2 separate regions of the Homo sapiens genome follow, and region 2 is linked to region 1. Evidence: fine-mapped expression QTL. A gene starts in region 1. The other region holds a variant in brackets. All regions are shown on one strand. Distances are between the middles of the regions. Region 1 holds the start of KIF25 (kinesin family member 25). Region 2 holds the start of LOC105378135 (a long non-coding RNA gene).

Region 1 (15,989 bases):
GCTGACGCCAAAGTGCAGGCCCAGGCTTCCCATTTGGGTCCGGTCCAGAGCCTGGTGCTGTCCACCACGCACTGTTGGTGAGGGTGCTGCCCCAGCCCGCCGACTTTTCCAGCATCATGTAGATGAGCTTTTTAAAGGATCTTTTTTAACATGTAAGATCACTGGGCACACAGTGTGAAAGGAAGCCGTGGAGCCCTGGCGTCTGCACTGTGAGCTCCTCGTGGTGGTTCCGGTCACTGGAAGGCCGATCTCCACGTGGTGGCCCTGCCTGCTGCCTCCCGGAGGCCAGCATGTTCCACTGCCACGCAGACCGCGGCCTTGGTGTGTGATGTGCTTGGCGTCAAGGGCCCTGCAATGAAACGGCTTTTCCACTGGGACTCCTGGGCCGGGACGCAGGCGGAGCACCATCCACCACATGCACCTTGCAGATCTGGCGGCTGCACAGGCCTCCAGGTCCTCCTGGCCCTCCCGGCCTCTCGCCCTCCCCAGAGTGGAGCTTCCTGCCCGTGACTCATGCTCCTGCTTCCCACGTCGCCCCCACCTAAGATAAGTCCCATGTCCTTTGCCCAACAGGTGGTGACTTTATTTCCATCCAACTCCATCCCTCAGCACCCCCAGCGCAATCCGGCCTCCCTGTACCCACGCAGGCCCGCTCCCCCGTCTTTCTGTTGCCCACGGCCAAATCCCCCAAAGCCCAGGGCAGCCCCACGTTGAGCGCAGACCATCCTGGCGCCATGGATTTTCTTAGAACTGCCGTTCCACGCCGGGTGAGTCCCCGGGGCTCTGGAACCGTGGATTTTCTGGGATTTGCCGTTCCACGCCGGGTGAGTCCCCGGGGCTCTGGAACCGTGGATTTTCTGGGATTTGCCGTTCCACGCCCGGTGAGTCCCCGGGGCTCTGGAACCGTGGATTTTCTCGGAATTGCCGTTCCACGCCCGGTGAGTCCCGGAGGCTCCGGAACACGGTTTCTAACGCGCAGGCTGATGATTTCTAACACTCACGTGCGTGGTATTTCTTTCTTCCCCAGAGACGATCTGAGCCTTTGGGGGCCGGGGACTGAATTTGGCTGCAGCCTCTTCTTCAGTCCCATGAGGGTGGGAGAGGCTTCCCGGGCCCCCGCTCAGGCCCCACGGATCCGCCGGTGCCCTTGGCGGCCTCTTCACCCCCCGGGGCTCTGGGGAGCCTCGCTCCTCTGCAGTTCTCTGTTAACACCTTTCCGCTTCTGAGGAGCTTCACACGGAGAATACGGCGATTTTCTGACCTAATCGCACCCCCTCCGCGGCCGTCTTTGCTCCACAGTTAGTTTCGGTGACTTTGCAGCCTCCCTGCCCCGCTGCGCCCGGCTCGCCCCCGTCCCTCTGCTCCTGAGGCCCTGAGCTTGGCCGTCTCTGTGCCAGGACTCGGGCCTGGGCTTAGCTCCCCGGAGGCACCGCAGGCAGCGCGCGACCCCGAGCTCACACGCGGGCATCGCCGAGTCACACGTGGGCATCCCGGGCCTCACACGCAGCCCCTCTTCCAGGACGTTCTGCCTCCCCGCACCTGGCCGGGACCCTCAGGCTCAGCCCTGGGGATGCCTCCCCGACGGCTCCTGTGGCTCCGTGCCCCGCGCGCCCCTGGATCACCTGGAGTTGTCCCCACCGTGTTCCCTGCTGCAGTGAGTCCCATGCAGGGGTGGTGTCTTCTCTTACGTGGGCAGGTGCATCTGGGACAATCAGCAACCATTCTCTTCTCAGAGGAAAGAGGAGAGGTTCAGCTCTCCTCTGCTTCAGCTTCGAGGTTTTAAGACTTTAAATTGTCTTTGATTATTTTCTATGCAATAGTACAAGGGAAAGATTGAAAAGAGTCGCAGTGAGGCCACGCGGATTTCCACCCTGTACAACAAACAGCAGTGTCTGCAGAGAAACACACGCTCAGCCTTGAGCCAGCTGGGTCATGTCATTCAGGTAAAAACAGCTTCACCAGAAGCCAGAGTTTTAATTCATGCAGTGAATGTTTATGTTTGTTTCTGGTGAAATGGTTTAAATTATGCTTGTCAAAAGACATGTAATCTTATGGAAGTAAAAGAAGCCTTCATTGAAACCAGGAAAGCCCCTCGTGTGTTAGATACAAGTTTCCATCACAGGCCCAATCTGGTCTTCTTTAAAAGAGTATACCATCGTTACTATTTTCTTTTTTTAGAAAAAAAAAAAAAAAACACCAGAGTCTCGCTCTGTCGCCCAGGCTGGAGTGCATGGCGCAGTCTTGGCTCACTGCAAGCTCCACCTCCTGGGTTCACACCATTCTCCTACCTCAGCCTCCGGAGTAGCTGGGACTACAGGCGCCCGCCACCACGCCCAGTTAATTTTTTCTATTTTTTGGTAGAGACGGGGTTTCACCGTGTTAGCCAGGATGGTCTCGATCTCCTGACCTCGTGATCCGCCCGCCTCGGCCTCCCAAAGTGCTGGGATTACAGGTGTGAGCCACCGCACCCAGCTTATTTTCTCTTTCTTTTTTTCTTTTCTTTCTTTCTATTTATTTATTTATTTATTTTGAGATGGAGTCTCACTCTGTCACCCAGACTGGAGTGCAACGGCAGGATCTTGGCTCACTGCAACCTCGGCCTCCCCGGTTCAAGTGATTCTCTTGCCTCAGCCTCCTGAGTAGCTGAGACTACAGGTGCCTGCCACCATGTCTGGCTAAGTTTTATATTTTTAGTAGAGGCAGGGTTTCACTGTGTTAGCCAGGATGGTCTCCATCTCCTGAATTTGTGATCCGCCTGCCTCTGCCTCCCAAAGTGCTGGGATTCCAGGCGTGAGCCACCTCGCCTGGCCAAAATTGTTACTATTTTCATAATCAATTGCAGATGTTGTTCACTCTGGGAGTTCTGCTTTCTAATACACACTAAACAGAAGACTAAACCTAAAACCAAAACAAAACATAGGATTGGGATTCTGAGCAAATATCAGAAGGAAAAATACATTTTGTCCATGAAATGAATTATTTCAAATAGCTGTGGTAGCAGTTCAATTTTCTGAGTCAAAATTCTCATTTTAGTTAATCAAATTAAATCATTAAACTAAAATCTTACTTTAGTTAATCAAAGTTCTCAATTTAATTTTAATGTTAAGTGGTAGAAAACATGTTTATACATGTTAGACTAAATAGATCTGGTACAGCATGTCATCAGATGTGAACAGCTCCTGTTAAACTACTAATAATTTCTAGAAAGTTAGAAAAATTGTTATTCCCTATAGTATATTTGGCAATTCTCCAGGGTGAGCTTGTAGGAGGATATTTTTATACCTTTGGTTGAGAACATTGTTTTACCTTTTGTTTTAAACAATGTGACCATATAATTACTACAACAATAAAACATCTGTAAACAGGATTAATCTGTTCTCTATGTTAGTCAGAATTAGAGATATCCCACCCCCTCGTAAGCTGCATTAGTGTATTTAGAATAGATTTATATAAAATTAATTTTCATTCTCTTCCAACTGAATAAAATTAATTGAATAAGTTGTATGTATAACTTTATCTGTACTCCATATAAGAAAAACACTTTAGTTTTGATATTAAAATGTTTATTAATTCGTTATTAAAATGTTTCCCAAACATATGAAAGCCGTCTCCATTTTATAGAAAAGGAGATTTGACTAAAGAAACGAAGAATACTTTAGTTATGCTCCTGTGATTTAAGAGTATCTGATATTAAATATTAAGCAGTAGTGTCCTGGTTCTGTCACATCTTCCCATGGAAGATCCTTGAGATAATTTCATGGGGAGAAGAGGACTTTCCACGCAGGACATCAGTTGCTTTGCTCCCAAAGTTCTCTAAAAGCGTTCATATGTATTGTGCCTGGAATTTTATTATGTACATTTACATGTTAAGTTGTTTTCACCGGCCCACGTTTTCCACCATGTGCTCGTGATAATTGAGCTTCCAGAAGGCAGGTCTGGATAGTAGATTAGGAGGGTGGTCCCCATTTCACAGGCGGTGATGAGAGGCTCTGAGCCTGAGCCAGCATCGTGAGGAAGTCAACAATAGACGGAAACACGGCTCGCGCCCAGCATCGCCCCACCGTGCAGTGAGCGGCCCTTCCTACGGAAATTGGTGAAACACTTGACTTTCTGTTTCTTAAATACTTTAAGGGCATAAAATCACATGTACTGCTTTGAAAGTAGAAATCCCAGATGTATTGAGTCAGAACTTCTGTAAGTGAGCCGAGGCACAGGCAGCATGAAAACAGTCCTGGCGGGCATCGACAGGCCCGGGCCGAAGAACTTCTGCTTTACACCCTTCCAGTTAACAACATATCCCTTATATTAATTGTGTGGGTATGTTATTATTCTATAGAAACATATATAACAAATTCTTATGTAATTATACTGTGATCATTAATCATATAATTTTATGAATCGTGTATGTTCTTATTTTATAGAAACTTAACCAGGATATACAGGCGTTTCATTCTTCTTCTCGGGCGCTCTTAAGAGATTATCAGGATGAGTATCAGGACCGTGTTTCTGAAATAGTGACCGCGGTGCAAAGAACACAGCAGAGTGCCGAGACCCTGCTAGGTAGGAGGGCACCTTTCACCGAAGCCGGGCCAGTCCACACTCGAGAGAAATGTTTGCAGTTTTAAGAAAATGACCGGCTAGAATTTAAGTTTCCATTTCTTCTTCCTTTTAGCTGACACCAAATTCCACAGGTGAGGGCAGGCACTGTGTGACTCGGCCACGCTGGCAGGTGCACTGCTCCCTCCCAGCTCCCACTGCAGCCCTGCTTGCTGGAGGAGCTCCTTGTTCTCCTGGTCACCACAGGGCACTTCCCCGGTCTTGACGGTCACTGCTGAACTGGCACCTGTGTCCACGTTGGGCGTTCTGTGTCAGAGTTTCCTATAATATGACGTGAGATTTTTTTTTTTTTGTCTTATCAGTTCAGTTCTTTCTTCATTTCTAAGAATGCCACAGCATTTTGGCTACTCTTTTGTTATAATGGATTTATTATCTTCAGCTACTGTGCTTGAAGCCTGTGGAAGAGGTTACTTTGGTTCTGCAGTTTTAAACTCATCGTCCAAATTGCACTAGCCGGCCAGGCCCGATGGCTCATGCCTGTAATCCCAGCACCTTGGGAGGCCGAGGCGGGCAGATCACATGAGGCCAGGAGTTTGAGAGCAGCCTGGGCAACAGGGTGAAACCCGTCTGTACTAAAAATACAAAAATTAGCCGGGTGTGGTGGCGCATGCCTTCGATCTCAGCTACTTGGGAGGCTAAGGCAGGAGAATTGCTTGAACCCGGGAGGCAGAGTTTGCAGTGAGCCGAGATCGCACCATTGCACTCCAGCCTGGGCGACAGAGCAAGACTCTGTCTCAAAAAAACAAAAGAACCAAATAGCACCATCCCCACGTTCGTCTCATGCTCACAGCTTCTGCCCAGTGTTCAGTGTGTCCACAGGCCAAAGAGATGATGGTCAAGTTAGGAACTTGGTCAAGGGTTGTGCTGCTGATATTCCAAAATAGGTGTGTGGAAACTTTGGAACCTGTACTGATCTTCTGCGAGGCTACATGATGTTTTATTGAAATCACTGCTGTAGCCTAGTTTTCTTCAGTGCACTCTGCTCAGTAACTCCCCTAAGGCCGTGTTTGTAGGAGTGACGTGTGCATGCCTGTGTTCTTTTTTTGGGGGGCGGGGGGCGGCGGGGGACAGAATCTCACTCTGTCGCCCAGGCTGGAGTGCAGTGGCGCCATCTCAGCTCACTGCAACATCTGCCTCCTGGATTCAAGCTATTCTCCCACCTCAGCCTCCCGAGTAGCTGGGATTATAGGCGCCTGCCACCACGCCTGGCTAATTTTGTATTTTTAGTAGAGATGGGGTTTTACCATGTTGGCCAGGCTGGTCTCGAACTCCTGACCTCGGGTGATCTGCCCGCCTCAGCCTCCCAAAGTGCTGGGATTACAGGCACGAGCCACCACAGCCGGCAACGCCTGTGTTCTTATAAGCCATGTGCTCCAGGGAAAGGGACAATCATGTTATTTTGTGAAAAGCAGTGTACTTAAGCTTTGAAAAGGTGAAACTCAAAGGGAGAAGCAGGGAGCCGCCAAGGCTCTCCCGCAGAGGGAATGCTGACGTGTGAGGAGGCAGGGCCTGCTGAGGCCCTGCCTGTGGGAGCCACGGTGCAGTCCTGCCACACAGAGGGGTCCCCAGGCGGCTTATTTGTGCCCAGGCGTTAGGCTCAGGGGCTCGGGGCCTCCTTACCTGGCTTCCCTGGGGGCGCGACTTCTCCCCTCGAGTTCCATGCTCCTCAAAGATGAGCCTCAGCCACCTCAGGTGCCCAGGCAGCTCCTTTCAGCCGTGCTGACAAGAGGGATAGTGGGGACAGGCTGGTGGCTGGGGCCGGACACACTCAAGGCTCAGATGACCAAGTGACTGGGAGGGTCTCTCTCTTGCTGTGGGGGACCCTTCCCGCTTTCTTACGCCCACATTCAGTCTGGACCCGGTAACGGGTGTTTCTTTCAGAAAGGGAGCGTGCGCAGTTCTGCAAGTCCAGCTTGGTTTCAGGCCTCATGAGAGCTGCATCTGCGCTGAGGGGTCCTTGTCCCTGCAGGTCCTCGGGCCTGGGGTAGAAAGCCCCAGGCTGGGCTGCATCCTTTGGCTAAGTGACATGTGGAGGGGTCCCTGGCTATCATGACGCGTACAGCCGCGAGGCGTCCTCTGCAGCACGACACCGAGCTCCATGTCACACTCACGCTGCCTCCACGGCAATGGCCAGTCTGGGGATTGGGGTGTCCACGCTCGTCCAAGGCCCCCACGCGATGCCCACTCATCGCCACATCACCTGGCACCATCCTGGTAGGACAGAGGCGGGAGTAGAGGCCCAGGCCACTGTAACAATCCACAGCAGCAGAGCTGGGCCCCAGCATCTCCTTCCCTGCCCCACTCCCCCCTCACCAAGGGCTCCCAGGTGCTTTAGGAGCAGAGACCTCCTTGGCTGCCATGCAGACGATGGAGCAGCATTCACGGGCTGATGGCATTTGAGGCTGATGACGGACGGGGTGACTGTGGGGCCAGGTCCCCCAGGCGAGCTCTGTGAGTCCTTGGTCGTGGTGGAGACAGCGCAGCCTGGGTCCAAAGCAGTGAGGAGCACAGGCCACAGCACGCAGCCGGCCCTGGAGGACTCCATTATTTTTAAAAATGTCTCCCATACTTAGAGAAAGGAATTTGACCTGCTGGGCCCCATGGATGTCCTCTCCGGTAAAATGCCTCCGTCCCTTTGTCCTTTCAGCATGCCAGTCAAAGGTGGCGCACCTGGAGCGGGCCTTGCAGGACGTCAGTGCGCGTCACCAGCTGGAGAGGCAGAGAAGGAAGGTCCCGCACAACAGCCTGGTGGTGGGTGTGGGCGTCAGGGGAGACCTGGGGCGGCCCCGGGGAGAGGCCCACGCAGAACGTGCAGAAGCCTCCTCGCCGGAGGGACAGCGGGAGGGACAGCGGGGGGACAACAGGGGGGACAGCGGGGGGGGGACAGCGGGGGTGTGACAGCGGGGGGGACAGCGGGGGGGGACAGCAGGGGTGGACAGAGAGGTGGACAGCAAGGGGGACAGCGGGGCGGCCTGGCCGGAGGGCAGAGGGGCAGAGCTGCGGGGGCTGCGACCTGCGTCCTCTTCACCCAGGAGGCGATGGCAGCTGGAGGACGGGTGAGGGCGCCGCAGGCTGATTTAGGCTTTCGGGGTCACTCTGGCTGCTCGGTCGGGAGGCCACGACGGGGAGCAAAGGGGATGGCTGCAGTGTCACGGGGGCTGGTGGCCTGGGCCACATTGGTGGCGATGCAGGAAGTGGGACCGGCTGCTGTGAGGCACAAGGAAAGAGCTGTAGCGGGCAGTTGGGGGCGGGGGAATCTGCAGAGATGGGGGCGGGGGAATCTGCAGAGATGGGGGCGGGGGAATCTGCAGAGATGGGGGGCGGGGGAATCTGCAGAGATGGGGGGTCGGGGGAATCTGCAGAGATGGGGGGCGGGGGAATCTGCAGAGATGGGGGGTCGGGGGAATCTGCAGAGGTGGGGGCGGGGGAATCTGCAGAGATGGGGGCGGGGGAATCTGCAGAGATGGGGGCGGGGGAATCTGCAGAGATGGGGGGCGGGGGAATCTGCAGAGATGGGGGGCGGGGGAATCTGCAGAGATGGGGGGCGGGGGAATCTGCAGAGATGGGGGGTCGGGGGAATCTGCAGAGATGGGGGGCGGGGGAATCTGCAGAGATGGGGGGCGGGGGAATCTGCAGAGATGGGGACTTGCGCGGGAAAAGCAAGGATTTTGCTGTAACTGGAGATGCCGGTGGAGACTGCCCCTGCCCCTGCCCCTGCCCCTTCCTCACCAGCACCTTCCACCCACGTCTCTCACTGCCCATTAACAAGACCCAGAGGCTCTCGTGCTTTCTTGGTCGAAGGTATGAGACCTGAGATCCCATGAAATTTAATGTAAAGTCTCAGGGTTTGATTTTGCAACACGAGGATGCCAAGGTGGATGATTGAGTGGGTGACCCTCGCTTCTGTGAGGTTTGATTTTGATGGTTGCACTTTGGCCAGTTTCTCCGAATTCCACCTGCCCGAGGCCCACGAAGCCAGTGTTCCTGCGAAGCTTCTCTTCCCTGGCCATGCCGAGAGGTTCTCCAGCTGTTAGATGTGTCAAAGAATAATTCTCATTTTAAGCATCTACTTATGTAGTTCAGTGCTCCAAACATTGATATAAGAGAACATTTATTGAGTGCTTCCTGTGTACCAAGTACTTTTGAAACCATTTGGTGTATTTTCTTATTTAATCTTCACAATAGCACCACCTCTCTGGGTTGCTATAAAGACAAAGGGAGATATCAGTGAAGCACCTGGCACTTCAGAAAGTCTCACTACGCTGCAGCTTTTTTTTTTTTTAATCTGGAGCATGAAAAAGATAATATGAACCTTCCTAAGATGGAGTCAAGTCCCACAAGGAAGAATTGGTTGTGGAAGTTTCTGAGTGTTCCACCTCAAGCCTGGTCTCCTGGTCTAGCTGAGGAGCGTGCAGTGCGCGGCCCATGGAGAATATGCAGGCAGAGGCTGATCCCAGCTTCTGTGGGTTCATAGAGACCAGACGGAGGCTGTAAATCATTGGCCTATGACACCCACTTGGTTTTCAAAATGTAGAAGGAGCTGCTCAGCATGACAGGGTGGATAAACTTGCTGTGGATCCAAGACAAGATTTCAGAATGGATTTGGCAAGTTCTGAGCACATACGGAGAAGATGTGTTGCTCACTGGAAACCAGTGGAGTTTATGAGAATAAAAAGCTTCTAATTTCCTTCCAGTCATTAAATCAAGGAAATATGACAGATACTGAATTTCCAAAATCCCCTCTAAAATGCCTAAAATGTCGAGCCCAGGATGCCATTCAAAGGGATTTTCCTTGGTACTTATTACCAAGGGATACCCCTTTGCCAAGTGAACACATTTGTGAAGTATGAATCCAGAAGTTTAAAATAACTGTTCATGGCCGGGCACGGTGGCTCATGCCTATAATCCCAGAACTTTGGGAGGCCGAGGCGGGCGCATTACCTGAGGTCAGGAGTTCGAGACCAGCTTGGCCAACATGGTAAAAACCCTTCTGTACTAAAAATACAAAAATTAGCTGGGCGTGGTGGTGGGCACCTGTCATCCCAGCTACTCTGGGGGCTGAGGCAGGAGAATCACTTGAACCTGGGAGGCGGAGGTCGCAGTGAGCTGAGATTGCATCACTGCACTCCAGCCTGGGCGACAGAGCAAGACTCTGGCTCAAAAAATAAATAAATAAAATAACTGTTCACTACCCTGCAGGGGTCTTTCGAAGTGGAGACAGGTGCTGCAGATCTCACGGCCGCGTCTCAGGAGCTGGTGCCCGGTGCACGTTCAGTGGGGGATGCTCCGCAGTGCAGGCTCGCGCCCGGGTTGACACGCAGACCTCTTGATCATTGCAGGAGCTGAAACGAAATATCAGAGTTCACTGTCGGATTCGTCCTTTGTTGCCTTTTGATAGTGAATCCGACGATCCAGTTTTGCAGAGCAGGTAACCTGTGTTTGCACGGTGTGTGTATGTCTGTGTGCTCAGGGAAAAGACAGAGGAGTGGCACAATTTTAAATGCCGTCTACTGTCCTGTCCCCGGTCCCAAAGCAGGACATTCTCGAGTTGTGGGTGGGGGCTCTGTTTAAGGATGGCGCTGTCTTGCTGACAGTGGACACTCTGCAGCCCTCTGTAATACGGCCTGCAAAAGGCCAAACTGCCTGAGCAGGCCTCTCGTGCGTGGTAGTGGTTCTGCACCTGAGAGGGCGTCCGTCTTTTCGTGGTTTGCCTCTGCGGGGTCCGACCGAACAGGGACAGGCTTTGAATGGACTTTTCCCTTTATGTCACTATATCAAAAAGGGAGCACCCTGCCTTTATGAACCCCAAAGACCACCCACTCCGCCATGCAGGCAGTCAGTGAGTATTGACTCAACTGATACTTTTGACTTAGAGAAAGTTTTGATGGTATTCATGGATACAGCAAAATTATCTGAAGTTCATTTACTCAAATGCTTACTTGAAAACCATACTCAATATGACTTACTTCCTTCCCCATGAAACAAACCCCCTGGAAATCCCCACTCCCATCCTGACCACACCTGACCCTCCCCACTCCCATCCTGACCACACCTGACCCTCCCCACTCCCATCCTGACCACACCTGACCCTCCCCACTCCCATCCTGACCACACCTGACCCTCCCCACTTCCATCCTGTCTACACCTGACCCTCCCCACTCCCATCCTGACCACACCTGACCCTCCCACTCCCATCCTGACCACACCTGACCCTCCCCACTCCCATCCTGTCTACACCTGACCCTCCCCACTCCCATCCTGTCTACACCTGACCCTCCCCACTCCCATCCTGACCACACCTGACACTCCCCACTCCCATCCTGACCACACCTGCCCCTCCCCACTCCCATCCCGACCACGCCTGACCTTCTCGCCCTCCCTCCATAAACCTGCCCCTCCCCACTCCCATCCTGACCACACCTGCCCCTCCCCACTCCCATCCTGACCACACCTGGCCCTCCCCACTCCCATCCCGACCACGCCTGACCTTCTCACCCTCCCTCCATAAAGCTGCCCTTCCCCACTCCCATCCTGTCTACACCTGACCCTCCCCACTCCCATCCTGTCTACACCTGACCCTCCCCACTCCCATCCTGACCACACTTGACCCTCCCCACTCCCATCCTGTCTATACCTGCCCCTCCCCACTCCCATCCTGACCACACCTGACCCTCCCCACTCCCATTGCCGACCACATCTGACCTTCTCACCCTCCCTCCATAAACCTGCCCCTCCCCACTCCCATCCTGACCACACCTGGCCCTCCCCACTCCCATCCTGACCACACCTGGCCCTCCCCACTCCCATTGCTGACCCTCCCGCCACTCCAAGGTGCTGCGCTTCCCGGCTGTCCCAACGCCATATGGGGTTGGCCGTATGCACCAGTTTGCTAGGGGCACTGGGTCCCACTCCTGACTTTGCTTTGCTCAGGCTGTTTTTCTGGTCTTGGTTTCCTCCACTTAATCTGTCCAAATGAGCTTTCCCTGGAGGGCCTGGCTTGAGCCTCACAGTGTTTGCATCCTGCAGTTTAGCACCTGACTTGAGAAGGTCTTTAGAAAGCACTTGGCCGGTTCTACAGTGTGAAACAAGAAATTCGGATCTTTTGATAGTCATTGAAACTTTTTCTTTTCAAAGTGTTTAGACATGATTGTGCTGGCTCTAGTACTTTCTGCACTTTTTTGACTGGTGGCCACTTGTCACTTGTCAAAGGACTGGAAATTGGGCCTGTCGGATACGTCAGTGTGGCGCGGGACAGGCCAAGTGGCCCTCATTCAAAATGTGTGGGACCAGAAGAAGTGTTTCCGATGTTGAATTGTTTCATATTTTCGAATGTTCGTGTTTTGTATGGACCGGTTCAGCAAGATAATCCAGTGGGCATTTTCTTTCAGCGTCATCTCAGTGCTCAAAACGTTTTGGATTTTGGAGCATTTTGGATTTCAGGTTTTTGGATGAGGGATGCTCAGCCTGTAGTTAATGGCCCCCAGCGGTGATCAGCTTTCCTGAACTTGCCTTTTACATGGCACTTCCAGACGGCTTTTGTTACACACCAGCCTCCCTGCGAGCCTCCCACCATAAGAGGCACATACATGCAAATGAATGCAAATGAAATCCCATCAGAAATGGGGCTCCTCAGCTGCAGTAGCCTCATCTGAGGCGTGGCCTCGGGCAGGTGAGAAGACACCTGAGGCGTGGCCTCGGGCAGGTGAGAAGACACCTGAGGCCGTGGCCTCGGGCAGGTGAGAAGACACCTTCAGGCGTGGCCTCGGGCAGGTGAGAAGACACCTGAGGCGTGGCCTCGGGCAGGTGAGAAGACACCTGAGGCGTGGCCGCGGGCAGGTGAGAAGACACCTTCAGGCGTAGCCTCGGGCAGGTGAGAAAGACACCTGAGGCGTGGCCTTGGGCAGGTGAGAAGACACCTGAGGCATGGCCTCGGGCAGGTGAGAAGACACCTTCAGGCGTAGCCTCGGGCAGGTGAGAAAGACACCTGAGGCGTGGCCTCGGGCAGGTGAGAAGACACCTGAGGCGTGGCCTCGGGCAGGTGAGAAGACACCTGAGGCGTGGCCGCGGGCAGGTGAGAAGACACCTTCAGGCGTAGCCTCAGGCAGGTGAGAAAGACACCTGAGGCGTGGCCTCGGGCAGGTGAGAAGACACCTGAGGCATGGCCTCGGGCAGGTGAGAAGACACCTTCAGGCGTAGCCTCGGGCAGGTGAGAAAGACACCTGAGGCGTGGCCTCGGGCAGGTGAGAAGACACCTGAGGCGTGGCCTCGGGCAGGTGAGAAGACACCTGAGGCGTGGCCTCGGGCAGGGGAGAAGACACCTTCAGGCATAGCCTCGGGCAGGTGAGAAAGACACCTGAGGCATGGCCTCGGGCAGGTGAGAAGACACCTTCAGGCGTAGCCTCGGGCAGGTGAGAAAGACACCTGAGGCGTGGCCTCGGGCAGGTGAGAAGACACCTGAGGCGTGGCCTTGGGCAGGTGAGAAAGACAGGCAAGTTTCCATAGTCCCAGAGGCTTCTTTCTCCTGGATGGTGCGGCTCTGGGCTGTTTGGCTTCTCAGAGCTTCCTAAGAAGCTCCATAAACGTGTGTGTGGACTGGCACATTGTTTGTGTTCATCGGCTTTTGGTTTTGAAACATGTTGCATTTTTTCAGATTCATGATGGCTTGCAGATGCTTGATTTCCTGAAGGGGAGAACCTGATGAGCTTGTCTTCTAGATCAGTGGTCCCCAACCTTTTTGGCATCAGGGACCAGCTTCCTGGAAGACCAGGTTTCCACGAACTGGCGGGCCGGGGCAGGGATGGTTTCAGGATGACTCAACTGCATTTCATTTATTGTGCACTTTATTTCTATTATTATTACACTGTAATATACAACAAAATAATAATACAACTCACCACAATGTAAAATCAGTAGGAGCCTTGAGCTTATTTTCCTGTAACTAGAGGGTCCTATCTAGCAGTGATGGAGACAGTGACAGGTCATCAGGCATCAGAGTCTCATAAGGAGTGTGCAACCTGCATCCCTCACATGCACAGCTCACAGTAGGGTTTGTGCTCCCAAGAGAATCTAATGCTGCTGCTGGTCTGACAGGAGGTGGAGCTCAGGCAGTGATGCCAGTGATAGGGAGCGGCTGTAATTCAGAGAAGCTTTGCTCACTTGCGCACCGCTCACCTCCTGCTGTGCAGCCTGGTTTCTAACAGGCCTCCATGGCCAGGGATTTGGGACCCTTGTTCTGTATCACCACCGCTCTAAACTGCGCATGAAGGAGATATTTAAGCGTTCTTACTGGAGTATGGATGACTCTCCCATGCAATGCAGACAGGGAAGATGAAAACAAGAAATAAAGAACAGGGGTATTGGAGTAAAAAAATCAAGAGAAGACAAAAGGGGGTGGGGAAGAGAAGAAAATAATACATAAAAAGTAAAGAGTAAAAAAAATAAAAAGCATAAGGTCCAAAAGGACGAGTGGAGTTTTAGAAAAGGATGGAAGGGTGGATCCATGCACACAGGAAGAGGAGGAAGAGGAGCCAAGCCAGTGTCCTGGGAGACCAGGACAGAGACAGAGATGATGGCAGAGAAGCAGAGGGGTGTTTTAGAGTGACCAGGACAGAGACAGAGATGATGGCGAAGAAACACAAGGGTGTTTTAGAGGCTGAATGTTAGGAATTCAGAAAGCAATTTCTTCATGATGTGTATTTTCAATGTTGTTTCATTCCCTCAGCTCCATCTCTAGAGAAGCGGCCCATGCTGTTGATGACCTGAGTCTACAAGTTTCCTCACAAATTGTATTCAGAGAGCAGCTTCCTGCTTGGTGGGTGTCCGTAGTCCCCACAGATCCCTACAATGGAGAGCAACTCAGAGACTGAATAAATAGAAAATAATTTATTTTAGGCTTTCTTAGTTAAGAAGAGTTGTTTTTGTTCCTTGATTTCTATTGGAACATGAAATTAAGCATTTGACATGCTTTCCTTGTGGGAAACCAGCTCCTGACCCGTAGTTCTATGTGAGGAAGTTACTTCACTTCCATTTATTTTCCAGCCCAAATGATCAATCAGTGCAAATATGAGCAAGTTCTAAAATTTAGAGCACCAGGAAAAGAGATATAAATATAAAATCAGTGATATCATGGGTGAACTTTGTGATTCTAAACTGGAATCAAGCATGATTTTGTTTCTCCTGAAAGCCTCCTTGCTTTTTAGTTTTATCCACGAAAAGGCCGAGAAGTCAGAAGGAGCAGCCCAACACCCCAGGGGTGTCTGAGTACCAAGCCCACTGCAGGAGAAAAGCTCATTTGACACCTCGCATCTGGGCCAGGAAAGGAAGTGGGTGGGAGGAGCCTGGGGCACTTGGGGAGCTGAACAGCAAGGGAGGCCTCAGAACAGAACGGGGGCTGTCCCAGCACATGGAGCCCACGGCAGGCACTCCCTCAACGCGGGATAGAAGCCTGGGGATTAAGGAGGGACTAAAGCAGATTGAAATATATAATTATATGTACAATCTTGAGTTCATAATAATGAGTTTTTAAAAAGACCTCACATTAATTTTTTGGGTGCTAGAACATCAACTCATTATTCCAAAAAGTGATAGAAAGAGAAAAGGGTTGTGATGTCCTTCCTGTAGGAAACATACTCAGGGCAGATGCATGGTTTTTGAGGGAACAGAAGATTCTAGGTAATAAACTCAACAAATGATAAAACTGGAAAACCATCATTTGAAACCCCCAATGAAATGGTGACTCTAGGCCCTCAGAGGATGCTGGTCAGGGGTTGATGGGATCGTCACGATGAGGGTTCAGGGTTGCCTCAAACCCTCTAAGCACTTTCTCCTGAGTGGACGCTGCTCAGGGGTTGATAGGATCTTCACGACGAGGGTTCAGGGTTGCCTCAAACCCTCTAAGCACTCGCAGCTTCCCTGAAGTTGGGATGCAGAGACATGATGTCCCGAGGTGGTGCAGCAGGTGGGACACAGTGGGACTGATGAAGCACTTTTGCTTCAAAATCAAACCAGCATCTAATCAAGTCTTGGGGACAGTCATTTTAAAGGAGAGAAAACCATCTGCCAAGCCAGAATGCGGACATTTCACAGAACAGACTGCCTGGCTTCTCTAGTAATAACTTTTGTTTTTAAAGGCAGGAGGACACAGTAGAATGAGACGTGTCAGCCTCAGTGTGTCCTGGTTTGGAGCCTGGTGTGCACGAGCCACCTGTCACAGGCGAGCTTGGCGTGCACGAGCCGACTGTCACAGGCAAGCCTGGCATGCACGAGCTGACTGTCACAGGCATTGTTGGGACAGTGGGGGAAGTCCGAATGTGTCCTGGGTATATAGGGGGGCAAACCTTCTCCTCTATCCTCCTAGGGTCCCTGGTGGAGCC
Region 2 (15,989 bases), 53 kb after region 1:
GCCTATGATCTGATGGAGCTGGATGTGCAACCAGGCAGCCCGGGAAGCTCTGGGCGAGCCAGGCATTTCCCCCTCCACAGGTGAGTTCCAAATCCCGTTACATTCTCAGGGATTGGTTCTCTTACCCCGGCAACCCGAGAGTCGTGTTCCTCACACGGGCCCTCTGGGAACAGAAAACCTGAGTTCCCAGCAGGAGCTCGCTTTGAGCTGTGAGCAGAGCCATGAAAGACACTCACTCTCATGCCTGTCCCGTCCATGGCCTCCCCTCTACCTGCCTGAGAGCCGCTCCTCCCAAGGAGCCGGTTTTGCTTTTCCTGCCTCCTTTCTTGGTGCAAACGGTGATGGTGCGTGGCGGTCCTGTCCAGGTGTGTCTGGAGTGACCGGGTTGGCCCTGAGGGAGATGGCGTGCATCAGCCGCAGCCTTGCGGCCCTGGCAGGCGTCCTGGGGGCTTTGTTGGAGCACCGTGGCCATGCCCCGTACCGGAACAGCAGGCTCACCCACCTCCTTCAGGACTGCCTCGGTAACCGTTTTCCCCAAAATGCCCCAGGATGGGGGACCACGTACCCCAGGACATGTGCACACACTTCTGGCCTGCACGTCCTCGAGGGCCACCCATGCACCCCCTGCACCTCCTGTGTCCTCGCTGTGGCTAGCTGGCACTCCCACGGCACGGTGGTCATTCTCCTGCGCCGTCTCACCTTGGCCTGATTGTGTGCTTGTTCGGTCTGTGTGTGACTTGCCTCCTGGTTGGGGCTCAGTTTCTCAAGGGTGGCAGCCCTGGCCTTTCTCTTCACCAGGGGTCCGCCAGAGCAGCTGAGGGCTCTCTAGGCTGCTGCTGCATGTGTGGCCTGGGTCCCTCCGGCTGTGTAGACCTGCTTAGGCCCCAAGTTCCTTGGGTCTTTTGGGGGCAGGTGCCAGAAGCCTGGACGCAACAGATTAAGCACCAGTGCCAGGTGGGGCACAGGCGGCCCCTGTGTGGAGTCATCCAGCTGTGGCTGGATCTGGGCTTTGCGGTTTTTGGGGAGCTCAGTTAGTGCCCCCTCCCCCGACTCAGACTCCAGACTGGTTGAAAGGGAGGACCCGAGGAAGCATTGCGGCTCTTCCTGACTCAGGGTGCAGGCAGAGTCCCCCAGAGGTGGCCCTGGGCCCTGTAGGCCGTGTCCTGAGAAACGGCCACTGCAGGACGGCAGGGGCACATGGCCACCACAGTCGGGGGGCTCCTCCTTCCTGGGAGGGCCACCCTGGGAGGTGGTGGAGGGGCCGCTGGTGCTCGGGACTCGGGGAGGCTGGAATGTTCCAGACACTCTCCCTGTCTCTCATTGTGGGGTATTTCCCCCTCTCATGGCAAATTGGCTTCCTCCACACGGTGAATAACAGGGCTGTTCACAGGAGCATATTTTTGGATTCTGCCTTTAAGAGAGAGACCACCTGGTACTCTTGGATTCCAAAGTTCGCAGCCCCAACAGAGAGACAGGGCGACCTGGGTCAGGGGCACAGCCCACCCGTGATCTCAGGGGCGGCACCGTGGGGCACACAGTACCTGAGAGCCAGCAGGTCCCTCATGGAGCCCTGGCCTTGGCCTCTGGGGTCTGCACTTTTCCTCCCCCTTAGCTCTCCCTTCCTTCTCCACTGTTTTTGGTTTTCATCTGTAATTCTTAACCCTCGTTACGGGTCCTGAAAAACAGGAAGAGACAGCATTCCTCAGGAGGAGAAGTCCTGGGCACACGGCCCCTGCCCCAGGGGGGCCTGAGGGAGCCACAGGGCCATGGGCCGTGAGCAGCAGGTGTGGGCATGAGGGAGATCTAGAAAGAACAGCCCCAGGGGGCTGAGCGTCCCTCAGGGTCATGTGCAGACTCAACCTAGGGCTGACTTCATACCTCCCAATTCCCGGGACACAGGAGTGTGAGTAGAAGGCCTGCAGCTTCCCCAGGTGAGGGGCGCTAGTGACCGGCTGCTGACCCTCCCGGACCCAGGTGAGGGGTGCTAGTGACCGGCTGCTGACCCTTCCAGAGGGTGAGGGGTGCTAGTGACCGGCTGCTGACCCTCCCGGAGGGTGAGGGGTGCTAGTGACCGGCTGCTGACCCTCCCGGACCCAGGTGAGGGATGCTAGTGACCGGCTGCTGACCCTCCCGGAGGGTGAGGGGTGCTAGTGACCGGCTGCTGACCCTCCCGGACCCAGGTGAGGGACGCTAGTGACCGGCTGCTGACCCTCCCGGACCCGGGTGAGGGGTGCTAGTGACCGGCTGCTGACCCTCCGGGACCTGGGTGAGGGGTGCTAGTGACCGGCTGCTGACCCTCCCGGACCCAGGTGAGGGACGCTAGTGACTGGCTGCTGACCCTCCCTGACCGGGGTGAGGGGTGCTAGTGACCGGCTGCTGACCCTCCCGGAGGGTGAGGGGTGCTAGTGACCGGCTGCTGACCCTCCCGGACCCGGGTGAGGGGCGCTAGTGACCGGCTGCTGACCCTCCTGGACCCCCGTCCCAGGAACCTGCCAGACGTGGCCACTTTCCCGCTGGGGCGCCGGGCGGCCCTCTCTGCAGCCGCCCATCTCGGGCCCTGGTTGCTGGCATGTTGGCACTTTCAGATGCTGCTCTTCTTTCCAGCTTGCATGTTGTTTTTCTATTTTAAAGGAGGCGATGCGAAGTTACTGGTGATTCTCTGCATTTCTCCCAGCCAGAGGCACCTGGCACAGACGTTGCAGGGCCTGGGTTTCGGGATCCGAGCTCGGCAAGTCCAGCGAGGCCCTGCCCGAAAGAAGCCGCCCAGCTCCCAAACGGAGGGGAAGAGGAGGCCGGATTGAATGCATTAACAAGTTTTTCTCCTAAAACTGTGTTTCTTGTCCTTGCTTTATAATGCATATGTGCTTAGAAATAAACAGGTTTCACGTGGACTCAATAAACCTGGCTTTATTCCAAAGCACCCTCATGAATGTGGATGGGACCTCCAACTCCTGCCAGACCATCAGGCAGGGCAGGCTTCACAGAGGAGCTCCTTGCAGTGCGGCGGCCACCAGGTGTCACAGCAGGCACTCGCTGTCCTCATCAGACTCTCCCCAGAGGCCACCCTGGGCCCTGAAGGCCCTGCCCCGGGAAACTCGGGAGCCGGCAGAAGTAGCTGTGGGCAGGAGGGCAGGGGGCGTGAGTGCCCCACAGTGGGAGCTGGTCAGCCTGGGCCCAGTGCAGATCCCACCCGTGAGCTGGGGAGGTGCTGCTGGGCACGTACGGCCCCAGAGCCACCAGGCCTCACACAGAGCTGCCACCTCCGCCTCCTCGAGTTCGTGCTTTTCCTTTCCCCCCAGGCTCCCTCTTTCTTCACCACTGTTTTTGGTTGTCCACCACACTCCGCATGAGGAGCTGTGCCAGGCAGGGAGGGGGCGTCTGGGGCCAGCCTCACGAACCTGTCGTCTCATTTGACACAAACGCGGCCCCCAGGATTCCTCACCACAGGCTCCAGGACCAGATGGACTCTGGTTTCCATGGTGGCTCTGCCACCTCCCAGCTCTGCATCCCTGGACGGTTTGCTTGGCCTCTAAAGCCTGGCTTCCTCCTCGGCAAAGCCAGGTGAAACCAGAGGGTTGGGAGCCTTAAAGGAGACAAGGAGCAGCTCTGGAGACTGGCCTGTGACTTCCCCTGCCGTGGGGCTGAACTGGCACGTTTAAGCCCCACCCCACCACAGGGCTCCTCTCCGCCTCACAAGGGGATGCATGGTGACAGCTGCCCACCGCGTCCTCTGCTGGAAGGGTGCCCCCTGGGGCTGCCCCCATTTCCACCGGGCCCGCAGTGACAGATGTACCCTCTCGGACCCAGCAGATCCAAGAGCAGGGTCCCAGGAGGAACGCATGTGCGGAGGAATGGGGGGTCACAAGCACAGACCAAGAATACCCCATTTCTTACCAGCAACCATTTTGGCTCTGAGAATTGGCTGGGAAGCAGGTTTTGGAGAGGAGTCACAGCTGGTAGCTTTCAGATGATTTCAATGCCAGGAAAATGTTTTTTTTTTTTTACTCTATCCTGTTTATGCAAGAGGGAGGTAAAATGTCTTTTCTAGTAGTTAGCACAAACCAAGTAAACCTGTGCCCACATGCGGCTCAGGTGAGGAGCGTGAGCTGTGGTGGTCCTGACTCATGGCGGGCAGAAGGGTAGGAACCCCCTCCCTTCCTGGGAGCCCAGAGCAAGGGGTGGAGACAGGCAGGGGGTGTTCAGAGCCCAGTGTGCTAACGGCCTTTTCCTGTACTCCTTTTCCCAGGGCGGAGCATTCTGCCTCACTGCGAGTGGGGACCTGGCCCAGGCTGCTGGGGTCCAGCTTTTAGTCAGGGTGGCCAGGAGGGCAGGTGCACGGGGCATCATGCGCTGAAGACAGAGATGCTGGGCTTCTCCCTGCCAGGAAAGGACTCAGCCAGTGGGGCTGAAAGCAGAGACATCTGCTTCAACTCATGGTTTTTAATATAATTGGGTAGAGATGATAGACAGTAGATAGGTGAGATGATGGTGAGATGGTAGATGATCAGTCAGTGAACAGATGGCAGATCTGTAGATCCATGGATGATAAACTCATCAGCAGATAGATCAGATTTAATCTCATATATAAAAAATATGATCGTTTCAATGTGTAATCAATATGAAATCAATATAGAGATATTAATGAGATATTCAAGATTCTTTGTCCACACTAAGTCTTCAGAATTGGTGTGTTTCCCACTGACTGACAGCGCCCCTCAGCACAGGCTGGCTGCGAGCTTAGGGGGCCACAGGTGGGCAGCCCACCTAGCCCTGTGCTGAACCCCACAGACAAATGCCTCCATTTTGTAACACCACCTATTTTTAAGGATCCCTTGATTATCCTAAAGTGAAATTATACATAGATTATATAATCCTAACAGAGCATGCCTTTTTTAAAAAAAAAAAAAGAATCAATATAATGATGTAACTATAATATAATGGAGAAATAGGCCAGATGCGGTGGCTCACACCTGTAATTTCAGCACTGTGGGAGGCCGAGGCGGGCGGATCACTTGAGGTCAGGAGTTTGAGACCAGCCTGGCCCACATGGTGAAACCCCGTCTCTTCTAAAAACACAAAAATTAGCTGAGCATGGTGGCAGCTGTAATCCCAGCTACTCAGGTGGCTGAGGCACGAGAATCACTTGAACCTGGGAGACTGAGGTTGCAGTGAGCCGAGATCGCATCACTGCACTCCAGCCTGGGCGACAGAGCGAGACTCAGTCTCAAATAAATAAATAATAAAAATAAAAATATAATGGAGAAATAAAAAGTTTTTTTCTGTGTATATACACATAAGTATATTTCAATTCGTAAAACTTTCAAAACAACTACATCTGAACACACAGCGAAGTAAATGAGTTTCGGTATAAGAAGGAAGACAATATTCAATTTATGTATATTCGACAATTTAAAAATAAGGGCCAAGTGACTGTATCTGTGTGTGTGTGTGCACGTACATGCATGTAAAATCTCCAGGAATGTGGCCGCTACAAAAAGCAGACAGACACACAGACATGGAATTGTCACAAGTGTCCCATTTGTGACTCACATGTCACCAGCAGTATAGCAATGTGATATAATTTTGTACATGGTGAAAACCTCTTGGTAATGTTACAAAGTTTCAGCTTCTCTTGGTTTACACAACTGTTGCATTCCTGACACATAATGTACATTAAAACTGCAGAAATAATCCTTCCTGATTTTATGGAGAGCAGTGTGAGGTTTCAGGCCTGGATCACCAAATGCAGGATTTCCACCTGTGAATGTCTGACGGGGGCTAAAGCCACGTGGCCCCCGGGACAGTATTTGCTGGGTGGGAGTGTCCTGTGCCTTATGGGGACCTGGCGTCCTTGGTGCCTGTCTGCTCAATGTCACTTGTGTCCCCTCATCATTGTGATGACTTGAATGACCCCACAGGTTCTGAGATGCTCCCTCAGTGCCCAAAATAAAATCAAACTTCTCTTTAGGGTTGGCCCTTAGGCAGGCAGATGCCCCTGGCTCAGGAAGCCCCTCACCGGCTTGCTGAGGTGCGAAGTTCCTTTAGTAGGACAGAGACACCAACGCACAAATGATGGACTCAGGAGGTGGCAGCTCTGGTGAGATGGAAGCTTCTCTGTGGAGCCCGCACTGAACAGCAGTGCCAAGCAACAACTGCCGCCAGGCCCTGCCGTCCTCCTTCTGACCTTGAAGGGCCCGAGCTGCTGCCATAGCGTGACCGAAGGGACAGCCTGGCTGAGCCGCGTGACACTCGACAAGCCTTCTTTGTGTGTTTGATGAAGTTCCTCTCTGAGCAAGGCCGGCGTTGTGATAACCAAGCTGCCTTTGTAGAGGATGCGTGGACGCCTCGCCCCACAGCTGCGTGGGGCCCACAGTGGTGCCCCGAGACGGGCACCGTGTGAAAATGGCAGAGCTTCCCTCTGGGGAAGTGTTGGACCGGCTCTGGCCAGCCTCTACGCGGGATGGCAGAGGCGCGAGTGACTCAGGAACCTGCCAGTCACAGCCTAGAGCAAGGGCGTCTACAGAGACTGGGAGTTGGGGCAGTGGGCGTGGGGGGCGCTTGGGCCCCAGGCACCGGACCCCACTGCCTGCCACCCTCGACGCCCCCACGCTGCAGACTGGAACCCTCTGCCCCATCACAGGGCGTGCAGCTGAGTCCTCGCTTCCCAGGTTTTCGTCTGCCTCTCACTCCCAACTCCTCATTTCCTAGAAGGAAGCCTGGGCCCAGTCTTCACCCTGGTCCACTTGGCCACACCCAGAGTGCCAGGGTTTCAGAGCAAACCAGCCCAGTCTCCAGGGTGTGGGGCTGCAGGCACTCACCCCACCGCTGGCCACCACCAGTGATTTCAGTGGCCCATCACCGTGGTGCTGACACGCTGCCCCTAAGAAGGGAGAGGGAGGGACGGACCCAGGAAACATACAGAAAAAAAACCCAAAACTAGTCAGTGACTAAAACTCAAAGACGTCCCATCAATTAACAGCTCTGCTCTGGGGTTACTATCTTCATGTTCATTAGCTTCTTCCTCTTGGCTCAGGGCCTCTGAAGGTGTTTAGGATCAACCCATTTGAAAAGCAAGGACGCTGAGGCTGTGGAAGTCCACGTACTTACTGACTCGCAGCGCCTGTGAGTGGGCGGGAAGGAGCGTCTGCCCCTCAGTCGTGGTCCGGCTCCTTCTCTCACAGACGTGGACCTTTGGAGGGCAGTCCCAGCGCCACGGAGAAATGCATCTCCAGAAACACTCGTGGCTTCCTCAAACTGAGCACAACCAGACCTCCCCAGCGCTGACCTACGGCACAATTGTTCATGCACGAGAGCCGCCTTATGGGGTGAGTGCGTGACTCTGGTGCGAGGTTTATGTTCCCAGGGCTGACATGTCTGGGAGCTTCACAGCTGGACGAGGCATATTTGGAGGGGCGCCTTGAACCTGGACAGCACCCCCTCCTTGCCTCCCTCAGGCCGTTTGGCCACAGAACCTGTGACATGGGCAGGCTCAGGAGAGGAGAGGAGGAAGGGAAGGAGCCCAGGCCCCGAGGAGGGAAGATTGCCGGGGGCCAGGGTGGGGGTGGGGTGGGGTGGGGGCCCAGGGCCCAGGGCTGGGGCAGCTCTGGGTGCCAAATGCGGTTTCGTCCAGAGGACACTGCAAGGCTGGAATGAAACACCCTGTCCTCTTCAGCTTGTAGCGGGTCAGAGGCCGCTGGTTTTGAAGAGATTTGCCAGTGATCTGTGGGAGGAAACACTCAGCAGAGGTTTAGGTGGCACGTGGAGACTGTGCGGGGAATACAGCCCAAATGGGGAGGACAGAAGACACCACAGCCACCCAGGGTGTGAGAGCTGCGACAGGCGCCTGTTAGAGCGGAACCACAGGGGCCCGGCCCCATCTCGGGGTCCGGGGTGGCTTCCCTGCGGGGGCGGCCTCTGTGCAGAGGCCTGAAGGGTCCACAGTGGCAAAGGGGGAATGACAAAGTGTCTGCCTGTGCCGGACCGAGTGATCTGTACTATAATTACCCTGTGAGGGGCGCACGCTGCCGTCCTAGAGCGTCACAGACACCAGCCCCCGGGCCTGTTGGTACTCGCCGGAGGTCCCTGCGTGCCCAGAGTCCCGCCCTGGCCATCGTTTAGTGTGAGGCAGGAGGGGGCCAGATATGG[G/T]GGGGACGCCTGGCTCCCCCAGATCTCTCTTGCCTGCTCTTTCCTCCGCAGGCTGCCTGTGCCCCTCCCCCGTAGCCAGGAACAGGCCCTGGGGAGTGGTGGGAGGCCGTGCAGTGAGGCTTGCGGCCCTGGATGCTCCCTCAGGACTGTCTGGGACCAGGCTCGTCTCACAATCCGAATTAACTGCAGACCTCACTTCGAGAACAGCCTGGCCCAGCCCTGATACTCGGGGAAAGAGCAGCGGTCGGAGGAGGCAGGAGGAGCGCACGGAGGGCAAGCCGGGGGCCCATGTGTGGCTGGGGCAGCCGTGGCCTCCTCAGCACAGTGTGAGCCCAGCAGCCTTGCCGTGGCCAAGGCCCTGGGCCTGGGAACTTGTAATCCAGTCGCTGACTTTGCTTAGTTAGCAGAAATGGAAGACACCTCATTTGTGGAGACCGAGGTGGTGGAATGTTGACCCTGGGGGTGTTGCTGTGGGAGGCCAGTGAGCTGTTAGCCCAGTGGGCAGGACCTGGGTGACCGACGCCCTGGGGGTCTCATAACTCCCTGGACCTTCTCCTTTCTTGGTGGAGCTTGGCCAAAACCCACGGATATTTTACATCTGTTTCCCTGAAGTGCTAGGGACGTTCTGTAGTTTCAGCCATGCTCCTCGGGCAAGCCCCGGGATGGGGTGGGGGGGGCCAGAACAATGTGGGGTGGGCGTGGCCGGACGCCAGCTGCCCCTCAGCAGGGGCTTCAGCTCCATCACAGCCATGTGGACTGTGGCTCAGCCTGGGTGGACAAGGAGGTGTATACAGTTAGCACAGCCAGAGCAAGCCAGCCCTGCCCACTGAGGTGCACAGAGCACCAATCCGCTGGCCCTCCCTCCCTCTTTCACCTGTTCTGTGCCCATTTATTGGCTGCCTCCTGTACCGGGGTCTTGCTTTGGCACCGAGGAAACTGCAGTCAAGGCCGGAGGCTCCTGCCTTGAAGATCCCAAGACCGGGATGGAGACTGATGAGCCGGATGTGTCCCAGCGTGTAATGCAGGGTGGGCTGAGTGCGCCCCCCGACGTCTGTGTGGGAATCCTCACCAGCAAGGCCATGGTGTTAGGAGGGGGTGCCTGTGGGAGCCGGTGAGGTTGTGAGGATGGAGGCTCACGGGTGGGATTAGTGCCTTTGTAAGGGGGGCCCTGGGAGCTCGCAAGCCCCTTCCGCCCTGAGAAGACGTAGCGGCCAGGGAGGGGGCCTGGACCAGGAATGGAACTGGCCGGCACCTCGATCCTGGACTTCCAGCCTCCAGAATCATGAGGAGTGGGCAGAGTGAGGCCACACGGCCTATGAAGATCTGTTGTAGTGACCAGAGGGAAGACACAGTGCAGTGGACACGCCGGGGCTGGTGTGTGTCCTGCAGCCTCTCTGGGAGCCCAGGGCACCTGCTCCCAGGAATCACATGTGAGAAGCAAAACACAAGGACAGGCTGCGGGGAGGCGGCCCCGGACCCCCACTGGATGCCTCACTTCACACACCTGCCACCGAGGGGGACAGTGCCGGCCTCCCAGACCTGCACCCCAGCCCACAGGTGGGCACTCCACCCATGCACTGTCAGGGCTGCCAAAGCCTCATGCCCTCCCACCACCTTCTGCTGGGCAGCCCCTTCCTCAGAGAACAAAGAGCATTTTGGTTTTTTTTTTGAGACAGGGTCTTGCTGCATCGCCCAGGCTGCAGTGCAGTGGCATGATCTCAGCTCACTGCAGCCTTGACCTCCTGGGCTCAAGTGATTCTCCCACCTCAGCCTCCCGAGTAGCTGGGACCACAGGCGCCACCATGCCCGGCTAATTTTATTTCTATATTTTTTGTAGAGATGGGGTTTTGCCAGGTTGCCCAGGCTGGTCTCAAACTCCTGGTCTCAAGTGATCCGCTCACCTTGGCCTCCCAAAGTGTTGAGATTACAGGTGTGAAGCACCGTGCCTGGCCATAAAGAGCATCCCGGAGGCTCCTGAGGCGCGTCCTCCTCCCAGCCCACCTCCTGCAGAGGCCCCCATTGGAGGCCGGCCTGTTCCCACTGTTACGTGTTCCCATGTCCGCTCAGGAGGGAGCCTGGCCCGCACCCCACAGGGCACACTCCTGCATCTGGCTCTGAGGACATGCTTCTTCCTCTTCTCCCACTGCGCCAGGCCCTGCCGCCGCCCCAACAGCGTGGATGTCCAGGGCTGTGGGCGGACAATGGCCCTGATGTCCAAGGACAGACAACAGAGGGTGCGGCGAACAGGTCCCCACTTGGTGACGGTGACGTCCAGTTCCTGCTGCGTGCACTGGTTTGTGACAGCAGCAGTGGCTGAATGGAGAGAACCACACCCCTGCCAGCGGGAGGCCTGGCTGGTCACCTGAGCACAGATGCCAGGGCAGAGCCAGGAGGGGACTCAGGATGAACACTGCCACCCTGGGGCGGCTGGAGAACCAGGCATGGGCCGGCGGCGAGCCGGGAGGGAGCCCCAGCCTGTGCCCAGTGGCCCGGGGGCCTCATCCGTAGCCAGGGGATGTGAGCAGGGAATGGCAGCCGCTGTGTGACCCAAGGTTCTGAGATCAGAGGAGTCCTCACCCTGGGCCCCGTTTTGAGGCCTGAAACTTCCATGGTTAGATGGTGATGGGGAGCCCTCCTTCAGGGCAAAAGATAAGATTACAAATTCTAAAGTATGAAAATAAATCTAAATACAGAAACATTAAAAAACCACCACATCACAAAGTTTAAAAAGCTGAAAAACACAGTAACACAATATTTGGTGACGGTTTTATTGGTGAGCTGCCTGTGATTAATAAACAATTAACCCGCGCCATTTTCCCCACTGCGTGTTCACCTCTTCACGCGCCTTTGTAGAATACCAGCTTTCTCCCGGCAGGGCTGCCCCGGATTTGTTTTCTAACCTTGGCACCTGGAAGGCAGCCTCCCCATCACAGCTCGCCGCCGTGAGAACGGTCATGGGCCCGGCTGCAGGACCGGCATTGCCTACCACGTCCAGCCTCCCACTGCCAGCTCTGTTTCTCTTCCAGTCCCCACACCTCCCAGGTTGGGAGTACATGTCCGCCTCACCAGGTGACCTCTGGCCCTGGCCATCCTGTCCTGAGACTCCCTGCTGCTCCTACAGGTAGAGACGACATGACTGGGAACCCCGAAACGTCTCCCAGCAGACCGAGCCAAGTGTGTGTCCAGTTCAGCCTCCCCTACGCGGGCCCCACACACCCACAGGGCCCTCAGTGCCCCTCAAGGCGAAAGGAGCGTGACGGATGAACCCTGAGTGGAAGGGGCCGCCTGTCCCAAACACGGACGGCTTTTTCTGCAAGTTTTACAAACTGATAAACCTTTGTGAATGCACTCGCAGGGCCGCAGAGCTCAGCTTTCCCCGTGGCTCTGGCACATTTCCCCCGCCTGGGGAACCCAGAGTCCATGGGCCACGACGGGCTGATGCTCGGCTTGGGAACCACCTCTCCTGTGAGATCCCAGACACACAGGCAGTTGCTGGCTGCCCCGGGCCTCCCAGATGGGCACCTGAGGACCCCGGCCTCCTCCTCCTGCTTGGGGTTCAGCCCAAGAGCAGAGCTTCTCAGGCCGTCAATTACTGCAGATGGAGCAGGCTTTCCTGGAGGAAGGATGAGCTTTGTCTGGAATTCTCCATCTTCCGTGAGGGAGGCTGGGCTGATGGCTGAGGGCCCAGAGGAGTCCATGCTTCAACACAGGCAAGAGGGAACCGGCCACACCCTGCCCAGGGCCACCCTGTCACCACTCCAGACCAACTGCCCCCAGGAGCAGGGTCTGCCGCCTCCCACACCCCACCCAGCAGGGAGAGCTGCGCCCTCAGACCCAGACCCCCGCAGCAGCAATGCAGGTTCCGGGGCCCAGCGAGACCCACAGAAGCAGACGCAGTGGGGGGCTGAGAAACCCAGCCTGAACAAGCTCTCTGGGTCGTTCTTGCGAGTCTGGACCTGCCAGCTTGACCGCTGACCTGGCCCGGGCCACAGGACTGACCACCCCAGCCGGGCTCATGCGAGGCTGTGATGCTGGAGGTCCTTGGCCTGCTCCTTGGGGGTCCACAGGGACTGGGACAGGTGGTTTTCTTTTCCTCTCCACTGACAGGGTAAGACAGGGATTGGGGACTTTACCCTGTGCCCCTCCCCCACCGGCCTGCCTCATGCCACCTGAAGGCCACAAGCCCCCCTGTACACAGCGGCTTCTGCTGTTTGCAGGCCACCCCCAGCCCTGCCCCCCACCCTCCTTCTTAGGAAACATCCCTGTCCCTACCAGTCGGTGTCCATTTTTCTGGAAAATAGCCGTATTGCCTAAAAGACCTCTGATCTCAATCTGTGCAAAAAGAAAGGTTGGCTTCCCCGACTTCCCGCAGCCCCGCTCTCTGCTGCTTTCTGTCTGGGAAGGAGCCCCCTCCCAGGATGGCCTTCTGCTTCCAGCTCCGCTCCTGCCCCTCCAGGTGTGGGTGACGTGGAAGGGGGCTGTGGGGAGGGGCGGTGAGCAAAGCTGAGGCTCAAGCCTTAGGGGAGTCTGCCCCGGCCCCGGCTGGGTGTGTCTGAGCTGGTAGCCCACATGGGCTTCATGTGGCCTGCCTGGCCGTCCCCTCTTGGGCAAGTCTCAGGGCAGCGGGCCTCTAATTGTCCTCTCCACATACCCTGAACACCAGAGATTAGAGTCTTTGGAGCAGCCCTACCCGGTAGTTAACAGGCATCTGGCATAATTCTCCATGTCTGTCCACAAGGCCCAGAGGAAGGACAGAAATAGGAATCCCCAGTGGGGCCAGAGAAGCTTCTCGGGTCAGCCAGGGGCCATGGCTGCCTCGCCTCTGCCAGGACACAAGGCGCCGGGCCAGCTTCACTGATGCTTCCACAAGTTAGGGGTGGGCTGGCCCGGCCTTTGCTGCCCCTGGGGTCTATGGCGTGTGGCGAAGGTGACTGGCAGGGGAAGCCTGGACATGGGGAGTGTGCATGTATGGATGTGTGCATGTGTGTGTGTGCATGCGTGTGCATCTGTGTGCAGATGTGTGCGTGTGTGCATGTATGTGTGTGCATGCATGTGGATGTGTGCATGTGTGCATGTAGGTCTTGGCTCAGACCCTGCTTCATGGTGGACACCACCTGCTGTGTCTCCCCAACACTGGTGTGTACCTTCCCTCATGGTCCATGGGACTGGGCTCTTGCTTCCAAGTTTCTTCAAAGGAAGAAGATAGTCATTGCCCCGGAGCGGGGCAAATCAATCATCTTGTACTAATGGGAATGGCTTTGGGAAGTGCCCACATGCTCACATCTGAGCCAGCACTAGGCGCACCTCCCCTGCCGCACAGGAATTGTGGGCAGTCTTGCCCTCGGCAGCACTGGGGCTTGTGGCCATCTACAGAACGCAGCCTTCTGTGGCCGATGCCCCTGAGTGAGTTACAGCCGGCATCTCACCAGCCCCCCAGGCAGGCTGGTCCTGGTTCAAGCAGGAGGCATCTGCTCGGGTTCTTTATTACACGTGCCTGGGGCACACACACGATTCCCTTTCACAGAAAGGAGAGGGTCCCCCTGGATGGACCCGTCAAAGAGGCGGCCTCAATGCACGCAGCCCTGCACCAGGCCATGGGGCTCAAGCTCATGCTTGTCTCCAGTGAGCTGGAGGGTGGTGTGGCGTGGTCTTCACCACACACAGACAGTGAAGGGGGCAGTGGTGTTCAGGGCACAGGGCTGAACGATTGTGGCCTCTCAGTGCTCTGGGATGGGCCTGAGACTAGCAGGGATGCACGGGCCATTCCTCTAAATGCAGAGGACAGCAGGTTTGCACGTGTGCAGGAGTGTTGTGCAGGGGGAGGAGCCCTGGGGAGACCCTACCCTGGTGGCCTTCCAGAGCCCACAGAACCGAGGTCGCACTACCCGTGGAGCCCACCGGATCAGAGCAGGTGCCATGCACAGCTAGTCCCCCACTCTCCGTCTGTCACCAAAGCTTCGCCCCTCCGCCAGCTGGGCTGCACCAGCCCAACCCCAGCCAGGGCAATGGCTTAAGGAAGCCACCTGTGAGCAGAGTGGGTCCTGAGGCCTCATGGCTGAGATGGGAGCAGAGTCGGCTTCAGCTCCGGGGCAGTGGGGTCTTTGGAAGCCCTGGCTTGGAAGGGAAAGCACAGCCATTGACTGTGGATGGTGGAGGAGGGTCTCTGGCTGGATCTCAGGTGACAGAGCTGGGCTTGCACCACAAGAGGGGCCTCTGTCTGGCAGGCCCAGCGCTTGCAAACAGGAGTTGCAGAGAGGGGTTCAGGTCTGGGAGGAACCTGGGTCCTGCACAGTGATGACTGTGAACTCCGGCTTGGGAGCTCTGGCAGCCTGTGCCCATCAGGACTGTCTCTTGGGGAGCTGACAGTGTGGGAAACTGCAGAGCTGTCTCTCCAGGGTCTGGGCCCAGCTGTGTCACCTTCTCTCCCAGATTAGGATGGGTGACAGGCTGCCTCAGGGGCCAACACCATGGCTCTCTGGACACTTGACAGCCAGACCTTGAACTGGCTCCCTGAGACCCTGAGGGAAAGAGCTCCCGGGTGTATGGCAGACAGGCATGAGGTGCGGGACCTGTTTGTTACCTCCCAGGTTGATGTCAGAGCCAGCTCCACACCTCTTACAGGTGAACCTGTGGAGCGTGCTGGCTGCGGAAGTGCAGGCAGCATCTGGCGGGCAGGAAGGGACGAGGGCCATGTGGAAGTGGGGTGGGCAGGGGCTGAGCCTGGCGGTGCGGACGGTACTGCTGGGTGGGTGGTGCCTACACCACAAACTCCTGTGGTGGAGCCTCTCCGAACAGGTCCAGGGCGAGACAGTTGCTGGACCTCTTGCTGGGGAGAGTGGCCCTGGTCTCGCAGGGGCCTGCCAGCCTGCAGTCCAGGGCGCGGTGGAAGGTATGGCTGAGTGAGGTGGGCGCTGGGTGCAGGGCCAGCTGGTGCAGCTGCATGTCGTCCAGGCCATGGCTGTGCTGCTCCTCACTGACCCCGGCTGTCATTTCCTGGATCTGCGGGGAGAGGCCATGGGATGAGGCCTGCTGCCCCCTCTCACTCCCACCACCGCACACGGCAGCCACACTGCTTGTGGCCACAGAGCCACACTCCCTGCCAATGCCCACCCTGCGCCGCAGTGCATGGCCGGCCTGCCCCTGGACGGGTCCCCCAGCACACACCTCTGCGAGAGAGGCTTGGCATCTTCCTTTGATGCATTTCAGGAGGCCCCCACCTTGCCCAGCTTCTTTCCTGGGGCTGCTTTCTGCCTTTTAACTCAGTGGACCTGGACTCTTAGCGTTTGGTGTAATTTAGGATCAGGTCTGAGTGTGGGCCTTGAACACTAGCTCTGGAAGCACCTCAGTGGTCAAGAACGGCCTCCTATTTTATACGGGAGGAAACTGTCTGGGTTCAGAGGTGACTGTCCAAGGTCCCGTCCAGGTGGGCGGCCAGCGGGCAGCGTCATCGCCCTTAAGTGAAGCCTCCAGCCCGAGCTTCTCGGCTGCCGTGGCCCCTCAGATCTGCCTTGGACCACTGTGCTCCCAGGAGGCAGATGAGGCCCCTGGTGGCAGGTGGCAGGGGCAGGGGCAGGCCACGCCGAAGATTGCCCAGCGCCAGGGTCTGACTTGCCCTTCTACGCGTGTTTCCTTGTTTTTAATCAATACGTCTTTCAAGAGTGACAGTCCCTGGCCCAGAGCTCAGGCGGCTTCGGGCAGCCGTCTCCTCCACTGAGTGGGCTGACCTGGGTTTGGGATTGCCCCCACTGGGATGGGCCCGCGCCTGCCAGGACTTGCAGCCTCCCCTCCCTCCTCCCGTGCCCAGCCCTGTTCTCTCTCCATCCAGCCTCCGGTGCCCAGCCCTG

Evidence for each region.
Region 2: its variant is fine-mapped to the expression of KIF25 in nucleus accumbens (GTEx, PIP above 0.99).

Annotation. Positions count from the first base shown.
Region 1 is chr6:167,989,276-168,005,264 of GRCh38, forward strand. KIF25 (kinesin family member 25) reads left to right here and starts at 8,396. Exons shown (of 13, transcript NM_030615.4): 1 at 8,396-9,595; 2 at 9,817-10,045; 3 at 13,268-13,384; 4 at 14,339-14,428. KIF25-AS1 (KIF25 antisense RNA 1) reads right to left here and starts at 7,802. Exons shown (of 4, transcript NR_103750.1): 1 at 7,631-7,802; 2 at 6,963-7,326; 3 at 6,238-6,828; 4 at 4,912-5,189. RefSeq lists an enhancer at 909-1,409.
Region 2 is chr6:168,042,196-168,058,184 of GRCh38, forward strand. It overlaps FRMD1 (FERM domain containing 1), which reads right to left. Exons shown (of 11, transcript NM_024919.6): 11 at 10,900-15,144. The coding sequence ends at 14,902. It overlaps LOC105378135 (a long non-coding RNA gene), which reads right to left and starts at 3,967. Exons shown (of 3, transcript XR_943283.2): 1 at 3,895-3,967; 2 at 3,443-3,583; 3 at 2,999-3,115. It overlaps KIF25 (kinesin family member 25), which reads left to right. Exons shown (of 13, transcript NM_030615.4): 12 at 366-521; 13 at 2,632-2,896. The coding sequence ends at 2,801. RefSeq lists an enhancer at 6,222-6,721. The variant G/T (reference allele first, on the strand shown) is at 8,146.